Linked DNA regions of Homo sapiens: region 2 is linked to region 1. Evidence: fine-mapped expression QTL. Tissue or cell type: whole blood. Region 1 holds a variant in brackets; the other region holds the start of a gene. All regions are shown on one strand. Distances are from middle to middle.

What was found. PIP is the estimated chance that this variant, and not a neighbour inherited with it, causes the effect.
Region 2: QTGAL starts here. The variant in region 1 is fine-mapped to the expression of QTGAL in whole blood (TOPMed, PIP above 0.99).

Annotation. Positions count from the first base shown.
Region 1 is chr17:82,955,864-82,958,543 of GRCh38, forward strand. It overlaps QTGAL (queuosine-tRNA galactosyltransferase), which reads right to left. Exons shown (of 13, transcript NM_001009905.3): 9 at 1,496-1,631; 10 at 1,318-1,386; 11 at 832-906. Among named protein-coding and RNA genes, the nearest start is that of QTGAL, 95 kb to the right of the region's middle. The variant T/C (reference allele first, on the strand shown) is at 1,139.
Region 2 is chr17:83,050,103-83,052,782 of GRCh38, forward strand. QTGAL (queuosine-tRNA galactosyltransferase) reads right to left here and starts at 1,668. Exons shown (of 13, transcript NM_001009905.3): 1 at 1,635-1,668. The coding sequence starts at 1,649. It overlaps LOC124904094, which reads left to right and starts at 1,085. Exons shown (of 4, transcript XR_007065967.1): 1 at 1,085-1,143.

The DNA of each region.
Region 1 (2,680 bases):
TGGAAACCATCATCCTCAGCAAACTAACACAGGAACAGAAAACCAAACACCGCATGTTCTCACTCATAAGTGGGAGTTGAACAGTGAGAACACATGGACACAGGGAGGGAAACATCACACACTGGGACCTGTTGGAGGGTGGGGGGCAAGGGGAGGGAGGGCATTAGGACAAACACCTAATGCATGCGGGGCTTAAAACCTACATGGCGGGTTGATAGGTGCAGCAAACCACCATGGCACATGTAAACCTATGTAACAAATCTTCATGTTCAGCACATGTATCCCAGAACTTAAAGTAAAATTAAAAAAAAAAACTACTCACCTCAGCCCCCCGCAGCCAGCCTGGACTCCCCACGCTTGGGGAAAAAGGCTGCATTTGGAGCCCGAGGCACCCATCACCTGCCCACCCCAGGCAAGGGTCGTTCACACTCAGGGGCTGAGGACATCCCCGATGCAGCCACCTCAGTCCACGGGAGCTGGAGGTCCTGGCCTTGGCCCCTCAGACATGGCACCGCAGGGCCTCGTGCTTTGCAAGTTTCTAACAAATGTTGGCTTTATGGGTATTTTAAGACAGAAGAGAGACCGGAATCCATCCCCCCCACACCCATGCAGGCCACCCTCTCCAGCTGCCTCCTGCCCCCAGGGCAGCGGCCACCACCCCACAGCCTGGTCTGTGGTGCTGTTGTGGACGGCTGTGGCACCTGTCCCCATGCCCACCATCGGCTGGGGTCTCATCCCAGGCCACACAGTCATTGCACAGCAGGGCGGGTTGTCCAGGTGGCAGAGCCCGGGATCCCCAAGCCCTTCCACGGCCAAGGGCCCCACACTCACCAGCTTCACGCAGATGACGAAGGGTGGCCGGGCGGCTCGGAAGTGCAGGATGGGGATTCGGGGCTTGGGTCTTTCCTGAGAGTGACAGTGGCCATCAGTCCTGCCCGAGCCTGGAGCTTGTCCCCGGAGAGACGCCCTCAGGGTGCACGCAGCCACCAAGTTGGCTCACACAGGAGCCAGGGCTTGGGCAGCAGATAACGTGCCAGGGTCACAGACTGCGGCAGGTGTTCAGAGCAGGAACCCGGCTCCCGCCACCCCCGCCTGACACCCGACTGCAGAACTGACCAGGGTGGGCTACCCCAAGGCC[T/C]AGACCCACGAGGGACAGCGGGGTTCTCCCCCCAAGAATGGGGGCTGGGCTCCCTGGAGGCCCCGAGGAGCCAGCACGGCCCAGGTGGACTCTGCCAAGGGGGAAGGCTCGGAGCAGCTGTCCCTCAGCCCCGGAGCAGGTGGTTGACCCCAAGGGTGACACCATGCGGCCCTGCACACCTGAGAGTCCTCGTGGCAATAGAAGCCTTTCCTGATCTTGTTCTCGTCCACGTCACAGAATGCCACCACCTGGGGACAAGCACAGAAGGGCAGCTCTGGACAGGCCGGGGCCAGGGCCTGTGCTGTGGGACAGTACGGGGGCAGGGCAGGCAGTGTTGGAGGGTGGCAGGATGCTCACCTTGCGCTGGCTGCCGGCAGTCAAGCTGCGGTACAGCCGGCGCCCCTGCTTGCCAGCGTTCCAGATGGTGAAGGCCGCCCAGCGGGGCAGGGCCTGCTCTTCCAGGAAGCGGACGCGGTGGGTCCAGATGGTCGTCCTGCGGTGGAGAAGAGGGTGATAGGCAGGCCGGAGGCCCCACAGATGCACACAGATGCTGACATACAGGGACATGATGTGTGCTCAGCTCACGTTGCCAGTGGAGTGGACACCTGGCCCAATGCCTAAGAGAGACTGGCTGTCCTACAGTCAGGCCACCTGCCCCAGCTGGACGTAGCCACATGCCTAGGTGGGGATCCACCCCTTCCATTAGACCCCAACAGGTGGGGACAGATGAGAAGCTGTCACTTAAGAATCTAGAAGGTTCTGGAAGGCAGAATTTCTGTAGGACGCAGAGGACTGGACTTGACCCAAGTCCAGTTTCCCAGAGAAACCTTTGTCCATAAGGACACATGCAACCATCCCATAAAATCCCAGCGTTCACACTTGGACACGACCTTCTGCCTCAGGGTCGCTGCCCCGAACCCTTCCACTCCCCTGGGAACCTGGTCTCTGTTCTCCCTCTGCTGTGACAAGTCGACCCCAGGCTGCTGTCCCGGGGGGAGCAGGCTCCTTCCCATGACCTGCTGCTCTGCCCAGCGCCCAGCCCCATCGCTGCCCGGGCCCTTCCCAGCCCCGCCCTCTCTCCTCCCACCGCAGCCCCTCCCCACGTGCCCCATCGCTGTCTGCCTGTGTGTGCCTCTCCCTCAACCCTGCTCCTGGAGCTGCCCGGGCTGAGCCCGTCTCAAAGCCCCAGGAGCTGGACGGGCCAGAAGCTAGAGGGGCAGGGGATGCAGAGGCCAACGGGGCCAGAACGGCGTGGGATGTGTCCCAGATGCTGTCCTCCCCAATGGCCGCGATGTAGCCACGCTGAAGCCCGGTACCCCACAGACCCTGCCCTGGCCGAGTCCTGGGATGCCCTCTGCTGTGTCAAGGGAGCTGTGTCCGTGGGAGTCTCCTCCGGGGTGGGGTCTGGGCCAGACACAACCAACACTGGCTGGTGACGGGCCTCCCCTGAGCAGGGCCCTCGTGGGTTCAGCCTCGGGATCGGGGCAGGATTTCGCTGTTCTACGATTCTGCTGCTGCCTCCGCCTCCCGGGATAAACTTGT
Region 2 (2,680 bases), 94 kb after region 1:
GCTCACGCCTGTAATCACAGCAGTTTGGGAGGCCGAGGCGGGCAGATCATCTGATGTCGGGAGTTCAAGACCAGCCTGACCAACATGGAGAAACCCCGTCCCTACTAAAAATACAAAATTACCCTGGTGTGGTGGTGCATGCCTGTAATCCCAGCTACTCGGGAGGCTGAGGCAGGAGAAACGCTTGAACCCGGGAGGCAGAGGTTGCGGTGAGCCGAGCTCGCGCCATTGTACTCCAGCCTGGGCAACGAGTGTGAAACTCCATTTCAAAAAATAAAAATTAAAAAAAAAATAAAACGAGTTCCCTAATTTATTTACAAATTTACCTTAGTTTGGATTTACTTAGAGGAAAAGAAGGAAATAATTTTTCTCAAGATCTACAAAATATAATGTTTCTATCAAAGATAGACCTTGATTCACCTGTTACCAATTTTAGTAAGACTGGAATAAAAAAGAAAAAAGGCTGGAAAAAAAACAAACAAAAAAACAAAAAACAGAAAACATGCTGAGCCTTTGGGCGACTGCTAATCCTACATCCCTGTGGTTGTTCCCTGCATCGGCCTATTGGCTGGGTCTGAACCCTGAGGGCCTTTGCTCCAGCCTCTGCCGGAGCACGGGGAAGGTGTTCGGGGCTTAAGGGCAGGTTTTTAGGGCACGTGTTTGGGGTAAGTGTGCTGGGCACACAGGCAGGTGTGTGGGCACGGAGGAGGTGTGCAGGTAGGTGTGTGGGATGCGCAGGCAGGTGTGCACGGCAGGTGCACGGGCAGGTATGGGGCACGGGCATGTATGCAGGACGCAGAGCAGGTGTGTGAAGCAGGTGTGCAGGCACAAGACGTGTGTGTGGGGCATGGGCAAGTGTGCCGGGAATGTGTGACGGCAGACGTGTGGGGTGCGAGGTTGTGTGGGGGCACACGGACAGGTGTGCAGGCAGGTGTGGGGCACGGGGAGGTGTGCAGACCAGGTGTGTGGGGTGCGGGAGCGAGGCAGGTGCGCGCGGCAGGTGCGCGGGGGCGAGTCAGGAGCGCGGGGCACGTGTGTGGGGTGTGGGGCAGGTGTGCGGGGGCGGGGCAGGTGTGCAGGGCAGGCGTGCAGGGGCAAGGCAGGTGCGTAAGAGCGAGGCAGATGCGCAGGTGCGCGGACCAGGTGTGTGAGGTGCGGGGGCAGGTGCGCGGGGGCGGGGCAGGTGCGCAGGAGCGAGGCGGGAGCGAGGCAGGTGTGCGGGCGCGGGGAAGGAGCGCGGGGCAGGCGGGCGGGGATGAGGCAGGTGCGCCGTTCCTCCACCCCACGACCAGGTGAGGGCGAACGGGGAACTGCCTGAGCTCCGAGCCCGGAAGCTTCAAAATCAGAACGAGGAAGGTCGGTGAGGAGGCCACGCTCGCGGGACGGGGGCAGGAAGCGCAGCCGGAGCTGCAGATCTCGGCCGCGCCCCGCGGGCTCCAATCCCGAGCGTCCCCCGCACGCGCAGCCGCGCTCGCCCGCGGGGCCTAAGGGCTGCTCAGGGCGGAGACCCCGTAGGTGAGCCCGAGAGGCGGTGCGGGGCTGCGAACCCCGGAGCGAGAGAGGACTGGAGGGCGGGGTGAGGGGACGCGAGGACCCAGCCTGCACGGCGGGGCACCCTCCCCGCTGGCACCTACCACGTGGGCCTGCATGGCCTGGCTCTCCTCGGACGCCCCGCCCACGCCGGCTCCGCTCATCCCGCCGCTTCGGCCTACGGCGCCTGCGCGGGCGGCACCAGGAGGCGGGTCTGAGGCCAGGCAATCTCCGATTGGTGCAGAGCGGCGTCCATAGGGGTGGGCCTCCCGGAGGGGCGTGGAAGGGGCGGGGCTGCTCGGCGCGGGGCGGGGCCGGGAGGTCGCCGCCTCAGTCTTCCGCCCTGGGCCACGCCCCGGTCCCGGGTCACCTCTCGGAGCCGCCTCCTTGGCCCGTGGAAGCCTCCTGCTCTCCCCTAGGGCGCGCGTCACAATCTCTGGTCCCCCGTAGACGCCGCCGCGGGGAAGGCGGGGCTGTGCGAGGGCGCCGCGCTGCAAACCCAAGCCAGGCGGCCTGGAGTTGCTGTAAAGCCTCAAGCAAGGCTGATATGTAAAAGGTCGTTGCATTTCACCCGGGCTGTGGGCTGTGCTACTTGACCGGGGAGGACGAGGGGACTGCAGGGCGTCCTTTCAGACAGACGCGGTAGGGAGAGCAGGGCGTGCAGGACACTTGACGGCCCCAGGAGAGGGGTGAGGCCCTGACCCCACCGGGGTGTCATCCAGGAGGAAGGGTGCCCGGGGCGAGGTCCCCCAGGAGAAGTGCCCAGGCCTGAGGCCTTGACCCCACTGAGATGTCCCCCCAGGAGGAGGGGTGCCCGGGGTTAGCTCCCCTAGGAGGAGGGGTACCCGGGAGTGAGGCCCTGACCCCACCGCGAGGTCCCCCAGGAGGAGGGGTGCCCAGGAGTGAGGCCCTGACCCCACCAGGAGGTCCTCCAGGAGGAGGGGTGCCCAGGAGTGAGGCCCTCACCCCACCGTGAGGTCCCCCAGAAGGAGGGGTGCCCAGGAGTGAGACCCTGACCCCACCAGGAGGTCCCCCAGGAGGAGGGGTGCCCGGGAGTGAGGCCCTGACCCCACCGCGAGGTCCCCCAGGAGGAGGGGTGCCCAGGAGTGAGGCCCTGACCCCACCAGGAGGTCCCCCAGGAGGAGGGGTG